Linked DNA regions of Homo sapiens. The main gene of each other region encodes a partner of the protein of the gene in region 2 in a complex. Each region holds a gene or a part of one and is shown on either strand. Other genes may lie near its edges. The genes, in order: TNPO3 and CIRBP. A codon is read from its position in the direction of its gene.

Evidence for each region.
Region 1: the proteins of CIRBP (region 2) and TNPO3 are in contact, whole or in part, in a crystal structure (PDB 8CMK), measured with the Homo sapiens proteins. Residues at the interface, in NP_001271.1 of Homo sapiens: Tyr160, Arg161, Ser163, Tyr164, Asp165, Ser166, Tyr167, Ala168; in NP_036602.1 of Homo sapiens: Arg620, Glu660, Arg661, Cys663, Arg664, Arg667, Phe668, Arg671, Ser698, Cys699, Tyr702, Ser705, Ile706, Asp709, Glu710, Asp747 (codon at 3,417), Asp750 (codon at 3,408), Asp751 (codon at 3,405), Arg754 (codon at 3,396), Arg758 (codon at 3,384).

What each region holds. Positions count from the first base shown.
Region 1 is NC_000007.14:128,971,486-128,975,393, forward strand, and holds part of TNPO3 (transportin-3), read right to left. Parts: intron 3,478-3,908; coding exon 3,383-3,477; intron 1,098-3,382; coding exon 941-1,097; intron 1-940. UniProt on the Homo sapiens protein: Importin, which transports target proteins into the nucleus. Specifically mediates the nuclear import of splicing factor serine/arginine (SR) proteins, such as RBM4, SFRS1 and SFRS2, by recognizing phosphorylated SR domains.
Region 2 is NC_000019.10:1,267,024-1,270,931, reverse strand, and holds the start of CIRBP (cold-inducible RNA-binding protein), read right to left. Parts: upstream 1,601-3,908; 5' UTR 1,522-1,600; intron 1,108-1,521; exon of another isoform or gene 672-1,107; intron 66-671; exon of another isoform or gene 5-65; 5' UTR 1-4. UniProt on the Homo sapiens protein: Cold-inducible mRNA binding protein that plays a protective role in the genotoxic stress response by stabilizing transcripts of genes involved in cell survival. Acts as a translational activator.

The DNA.
Region 1 (3,908 bases), on a different chromosome or scaffold from region 2:
TGAGAAAAATATTTTTTAAATTGCCTTTCCCTTCTAGTTATTTTCTTCTCTCTTTTACTGCCAAACTTCTTAAATGAATAGCCTAAATAGAATGCAGAATACTTACTTCTTCACTGCTCTCCCCTGTCTACAATTCTACTCCACATCTAATCAAACCTACCTTCGAAATTCCTGTGAAGCACTTTACTACTCCCACTGCTTAGTTGTCTACTAACAAACTTAGTACTATTCTGACTTGCTCTGATCTTGGCTTAGAGGCAGTATGACTATCTGCCTCTCTAATCCATCAAAATTCTACCTCTAATTCATGGCTTCATTTAAATCCCTCCCCTTCCATAAAGTTATTCCAACTCTTTTTGGTCTAGAGCTTTCCCTCGTCTGATCTCATACCAATCATGACTTTTATCACTCATCTGACAATCAAATACTGGAGGCCAAGGTGGGAGGATCACTTGAGGCCAGGAGTTCAAGACCAACCTGGGCAACATGGTGAAATGCCATCTCTACAAAAAATATAAAAACTAGCCAGGCATGGTGTTGAATGTCTGTAGTCCTGGCTACTCAGTAGCTGAGGATCCCTTGAGATTCACATCACTGTACTCCAGCCTAGGCGACAGAGCAAGACCCTGTTTCAAAAACAAATGAAAAACACCAAACACTGGCATCTTGTTGTTACTTAACTCTTTAAACTTGTTTCTCTCTTCAACTAGACACCAAATGATTTGGGAGCATGAACAGTTTTAGACTGCTTTATATAGCCTAAAGCACCCAGCACAAGTGTCTTAGTTGATATTTTGGCTAGTGAATGATCCACTATGATATATGTCTACCAATATAGATCAAGTAAGGAAATACTGGGATGCTGGTTTTCTCCTAAGGAATGACAAAGAGATAGGAGATAAAAGCTGTTAAGTAGAAATGGTATCATTTTTATACTTACATCATTGGCTACCCCTGTATGAATGAGGTCTCGTAGAAACCTCATGACACTACAATTGGCATCCCGGTGGTCCAGGGTAGTAGAGGCAATGGCCCACTGTAAGATAGGGATGACCACTTGGCTCCGCAGCAAGGTGACAGGGCTACGCTGAATAAACCTGGTGTGGAAAGTGAGACTAGGTATAAATGACAAGATTAGGCTATAAAAGCAGCCAGGGTAAAAGGGCAAAACTATGAAGACAGTAAAAAAGATCAGTGGTTGGTGGGGGGTTTCAGGGAAGAAGGGATGAATAGACAGAACATAGAGGATTTTTTTTGGCAGTGAAAGTATTCTGTATGATACTATAACAGTGGATACATGTCATTACACATTTGTCAAAACCCACAGAATGTACACCAAGAGTGAAGCCTAATGTAAACTATGGACTTTGGGTGATAATGATGTGTTCATATAGGGTCACTGTTTGTATTACTCTGGTGGGGGATGCTAATAGAGGGGAAGGCTGTGTGTGTTAGGAGGGAGGGGTATATGGGAGCAACTTTTCACTCAAATTTGCAGTGAACCTAAAGTTGCTCTTTAAAAAAAAAGGACCATATCTTAAGATTAGTATATTAAAAGACGTGTCACCACATCCTATTTCCAACTAAGATTTTATAAATCAAGAAAGACCAGTCAAAAGGACCTACAAGTAGAAACTCTCCTAGGTTAAAAAGTCCTAAAGATGCTAGAACAGCATTTCCCAAACTAAAGTTCACAGAATTCCAGTTCCCAGGATGTCAACAGGAATCCCTCAAAGAAAAGGTTGTGTGTTCAGGTAAGCTTGGGAAATGCTGCTGGATTTTGAAAGTAGTTTTGCTTGTTTATTTTTTCCTTTAAACTACTATCAGGTTTCTAAGTTCCTTTAATATACAGGGAGAATCTCTTCAGAAAAAGGTACAGTATACTCCAAACTTGTTTCATCATTTGTATAAAGAACATTTTTAGGGACTAGTTTTCCAAGGAATACATACCCTAAGAAAACAGAGGGTGTGCCGGGCGTGGTGGCTCAGGCCTGTAATCCCAGCACTTTGGGAGGCCGAGGAGGGTGGATCACGAGGTCAGGAGATCGAGACCATCCTGGCTAACACAGTGAAACCCCGTCTCTACTAAAAATACAAAAAATTAGCTGGGTGTGGTGGCGGGTGCCTGTAGTCCCAGCTACTCGGGAGGCTGAGGCAGGAGAATGGCGTGAACCCAGGAGGCAGAGCTTGCAGTGAGCCAAGATCACGCCACTGCACTCCAGCCTGGGCGACAGAGCGAGACTCCGTCTCAAAAAAAAAAAAAAAAAAAAAAAAAAAGAAAACAGAGGGTGACAGCCCATCCAACAATTCTATCAACTGAAAAAAAAAAAAAAAGAAAAGGAAAAAAAAAGGGTTTTTCTAACCTATCCAAAAACTAACAAAAAAAAAGGGTTCAATATTCAATCCTGCCAGGTACGGTGGCTCACGCCTGTAATCCCAGGACTTTGGGAGGCCAAGGTGGGCGGATCACCTGAGGCCAGGAGTTTGAGACCAGCCTGATCAACATGGCAAAACCCCGTCTCTACTAAAAATACAAAAATTAGCTGGGCATGGTGGTGGGCACCTGTAATCCCAACTACTCGGGAGGCTGAGGTAGGAGAATCACTTGAACCCAGGAGGCAGAGGTTGCAGTGAGCCGAGATCATGCCATTGCACTCCAGCCTGGGCAACAGAGTGAGAGTCCATCTCAAAAAAGAAAAAAGAAAAAAAATCAATCCTAAGATGAAACAATCAAGTCAACATTACTTTGCATTTGTAAATGATATAACAGTTGGGCTTTTGTTGTTTCGAAAATAATGATTTTTCTTTTTTTTTTTTTTTTAATGCTGATATGGTAACAGTTTTGGTTCAAATTCCTTAGTTAGGGACTAAGGAATTCAAGCAGAAGTTTGGCAATCATATTATCAGTGCTACTGATAAAGTAGGCTGTGAGTAGAGCTGAGAAATACAGTATGAGATAACTGCTAAGGCATCTTAAAATCCCAAACATTCTTTATTCCGAAACTGATTATATCTAAAGGATGCTAAGCTTCTCAAAGAGAAGGTTGAGGTGAAACATGAAATCGCAACAGCACGAACAGTTAAAACCTACAGAGGACTGTAGAGATGATCTAGTCAAGTGTTTTGCCAGGCACACTGCATTGTCTTGTGTGTGAGCCCTCCTTCCTGGCAGGAACTCAGCTCCTTTATCCCTTGCTTCCCGCAATACTCTGCGTCACTGCTGGGGATATATCAGCTTGCAATTTACCTTTGGGTTATGAATCATTAATCTACTTACTCCAGTGACTTCATTTTACAAGAATAAAACAACCAAGGGTCAGATGGCAAGACTAAGCAGTGATAGGATGAGCAATTAAGAAATGGGCTCTTCAGAAGGATTTACCTGGTGGCTAGCCGGAACAGGTCATCTACAGTGTCAGGGTGATTCTGGAGACCATTCTGCTGTTCTAGGAGCTGAAAGGTGGGGATGCACAGTGCCTAAAACAAAACAGTGATTTTAAAAGAAATGCTTTTTCAGAAATGCCACAGCATTCAGACTTGCCAAATATTTATTACAATAAGTACAAAAGGAACAAAGAAGAAAAGCACAGCTGGGAAAAGAAAAAGATTGTAATGAGAATCTGATCAGGAAAAGAAACACATAAATCCTTCCCAGTTGACATAAACAGTTTTCACCTATGAAGTCCACATTTAAGAAAGGGTTGAGAAAACAGATTTTAGCTGATAAAACTCAACAGATGTCATCTCAAAGTTTTAGAAATTTCTGAAAGCAAAGATTCTATTTAGGTATAGTCCACTAAGGGAGTGGAAGTTTTTATAATAATTATGAAATATCAATTTTAAATGAAAAGACATCTTGGGAAAAGAAACAACATTCTTCAACTCAATATTCCCCTCTGTGGCTGGAA
Region 2 (3,908 bases):
CGGCCTGTGGCAGACACCAATGAAATCCTCAACAGGGGTCATCTCTCACCACCTCTCCCCGCTTCCTATTTTATGTAAATGACATGTGTTTTTTAGGGGAAATATTAGAAAATCAGATTTTTATTTTTCATTATCTCAAACTCATACCTAGGACTTATTTTTTTGGGGTCGGGGGCAGTGTGTCTAACTGTCACCCAGACTGGAGTGCAGGGGTCACTGCAGCCTCCACCTCCTGGGCTCAAGCAATCCTCCTACCTCAGCCTCCCAAGAAACTGGGACTGTAGGTGTACACCACCACGCCTGGATAATTTTTTTAAATTTGTTTTAGTAGAGATGGGGTCTTGCTCTGTTGCCCAGGCTGGTCTGAAACTCCTGGGCTCAAGCAATCCTCCCACCTTGGCCACCCAAAGTTTTGGGATTACAGGTGTGAGCCACCGCACCCAGCCACCTAGGACTTCTTAATTCAAATAATTTACTCCATCCACCCCCAAGACTGAAGGCAGGCCGCACCCATTTCCACAATGGGTGTCTCCCTTCCCCCACAGCCTTCCAGTTGTGCCCTGGGCAGGACTGCACTCTCAGGTTCTCCTATTTCCGAACGGGTGCCAACTCCTACCCTAACCAACTGACATCTACTTGTTGCTGGACCAGAACGTGCTTCTGCTCACTGTAAAATGCCTCCTGAGACTGGGGGGGGGGCTGGCTGTCAGGGAGGCCGCCCCGTCCTGGGGGGCACCTCAGGGCAGGTACTGACTTCCATAGCCAGGACCTAGGCCGGGAATCGGGAAGGGATGGCCCCGGAAGTGATAAGGCAGGATTTCCAGGCAGGGGAAGTGGCATTTAGGAGAACTGGCTATTTAAGGGGGCGGTCAGTGCTGACACAGACAAAGCATTCACTGGCTGGGAATGGCCGCCACCCAGTGGCTCTGAGAACTAGACTTGGAAGTCTGGCACTGGGAGCTGTGCCAACTTGGACCAAACTTTGGGCGCAAAGCACGACGTGGCAGACGAGGAACCACACTAGAACGGGCCACGCCTACCCAAGATTTACGAGGCCGTCCTTTCCCTCATGCAATCGCAATGGGAAAAGGAGGAAACTAAGGCTCGGTAAGCAAAAGCGTTGGTGTGTGGATACCTCCAGCCCCAAGGCCGGGAAAGCGGCCCTGGAGACCGGGGGCGCCACGTGGCCCCGCCCCCGCCGCGTGCGCATGCGCCCCGCGCGCACCCTGCGCCACTCCATCCGGGAACTCGGCGCTCCCGCCATTTCGCTGGGCACAGCCTCGAGCTCGCGGCCGCCATTTTGCGGCGGCAACCGGGTCGCCGGCGGCCCGGACCGGCGGGGAGAGGCCCTCTGGCCGCTACTCGGCCCAATCTCCCGCTGTCCCTCGCCGCCGGCGGGGCGGACTCCACCCCGGGCCCGCCCCCTCCCAGGGGCGTGCCGCTGCGGCCCCGCCTCGCCTGGCCGCCGCAGGCCGCCCGCCGCCCCGAGCTCCTCGGAGCCGGTGCAGCCAGGGCCCTCACCACTGAGTCGGGCAGGTCCCTGACGCAAGCGGGAAGACAGCGCACCACAACGACCCGAGCCTCCTAACGCGCGAGTGAGGGGGGGGCGTCCCCGAGCCCGGCCTTATATACGCTTCCGCCGGGCCCCGCCCCCTACACATCCTGGGCCAATCAGAGGGCGCGCCTGCGTCTTATATTCATGAGCTGGGGGCCGAGTCTATCTCGGTTCCGCCCCCTCCCGCGGACTGGTGTCGGGCTCGACTATTGGCCGAGACGTTTGCAGTCCGCAGTCCTCCACCCGCGCTCGAGGGGGCGTGACCAGCGCGCGGCGGGGCGGGGCGGGGCTGACCCAGTTACGCGTGCCTGCTCCCTGGCCTGCGGCGGGGAACAAATGGGCCTCTAGCCCCGATTCCCAGGCCTCAGGCCTCATGGGGACTTCTGGGTGTCACTGGGACCCCGACTTTGCCTGTGCTCCAGCAGTCCCGACATAACAACCTAGCCCAGATCCCCTACCCAACCAAGACCCGGCTGTCAGACATCCCAACTTCATCTGAACCCCGACACCTGTCGTGATATTCTTGCCAATACAACCGACGTCCCAGTTTTCCCAGCACCCCAGCACTCCATTCCTGCCATCAACCCCATGCCCACCAAAACCCCAACAGAGACAACCCCATTCATGCGAACCCCAATATTCGCAATCCCAATTCTTCCTACATCGCCACACTTTGGTGCACCCCAACTTTACGCAACCCAGTTTGCCTACAAACTCCAACCCGCACCCAAGCCTAACTCCCACTGGAACCGCGATTATCACGGCTGGGTGCGTGGCCCACACCCCCACACTCGCCTGGCCGGATAGTGTTGTGCGTCCCTGCTGTCGGGTGCAGGCGGACACCCCGAGTCCCCACTGCACCCCAGCACTCCGCCCGGCCCTCGGCCTCCCCTCCCACCGTGCTGCACAGCAACGGCGCACTCGCTCCCCACGCGGGGCCAGGCCCACTCTGCTCCTCCACCCAGGCCTTTTCTCTCCTTCCACAGGCCTCCCCTACTGAGCCTGGTTGGCGGAGGGGAGTCTTAAAGCCGCCGCCATCTGGAGAACCAGCTTTACAAGGACCCTCACTCACTACTCTTCGGCGGCCCCAAAGCCTCTGGGGGGCCCTCTATGGCCACCACTTGCTCCTCGCCCAGGAGTCATCTCATGCCGCCGCCTCCCCCAGCCCTGGTGGAAGAAGCCAGCGCGGACCCCTGCCTCTCTGCCCCAGAAAGTCTTCGGAGGGATGACCCTCTGCTGACAAGCTGGGGGAAGTTGGCGTACAGAGACCCCCGCTTTGCTGCTCATCCCAGGGAAATCCCGGCCCCACTCCTGACCTCAGACTCACTTCCACCCTCAAGTGGATCGAGGTGGGGGTAGCCAGGGGCGCTGTCTCCAGTGACAAGGTCTCTGGGACCCCTCATGGGCTCAAGACCCCCTCCCCCAGGCAGCAGCTGTGTGATTCATCACCACCCCCTCTGCACCTCGGGCCCCCCCACTACAGCCGCCCCACTCCCCGTCAGCGGCAGCCGGCTGCTGCGTCAGCCACTCACGCAGGGTGGTTATTAAAGGAGAGAGACATCAGCACCGAGCTCCCCTGCGCCCGCCGTCCATGCGGGAGGGGCCACCCACCCACTGGAGCCCCAGACGCGGGCGCCACATGCCCAGCCTGGGAGCAATTCAGGCCCATTCTTTCTGATCTGCGCCCCCAGCCCCCAGCCCCAGCAGTCAGCGCGGTGGACGTTCTCTGACCCAGAGCAGCCCTTGTAGGGGGGGAGTTGGAGGGGGTGCCTGGTAGTCACAGCGGCCCCTGCATAATTGCGTAATTCTTGCCGCTCCCCCCAGCCCATCGTTCCCTGGTTCTGTGAGCCTCTGCCTTTTCCTGGTTTTGCGAAGCGCCGTGTTCATTCATTCATTCATTCATTCAGCCAGTGCCTAGTTATTAAGCGCTTACTACGAGCGGGTTCCTGGGTGCGGGCTCCGTGAGTGTCCGCAGCCATCCTGGGTTCCCAGGGTGGCGTTGACACGCACCTGCGCACACCTGCCGCTTTGCATCTGTGCCGAGCACTGTGCACCGGCTTCCAGGTGTGGACCTGTGTCGGTACCTGTGCCTCTGGGGTCAGCTGCGTCTGCGAGCACCCGTGACTCCCAGGTATCTCACCGCGATCCTGTGTCCCCACCGGGGGTCTCAGGCGGCTGGGACCCCTTCATCCACCCCTGCTGGCCACTGACCATGCGGGACCCGACCGGGACGCGCTGCCCGTTGCGGACACCAGGGGGCGCTGCGGCCTCGCTCCGTCCGCGGCGTTTGGCTCGAGCGGCCGGGCTCCCGGTGCCGCCGCTCCACGCAGACGCCTCGCGTGGGAGAGGGGGC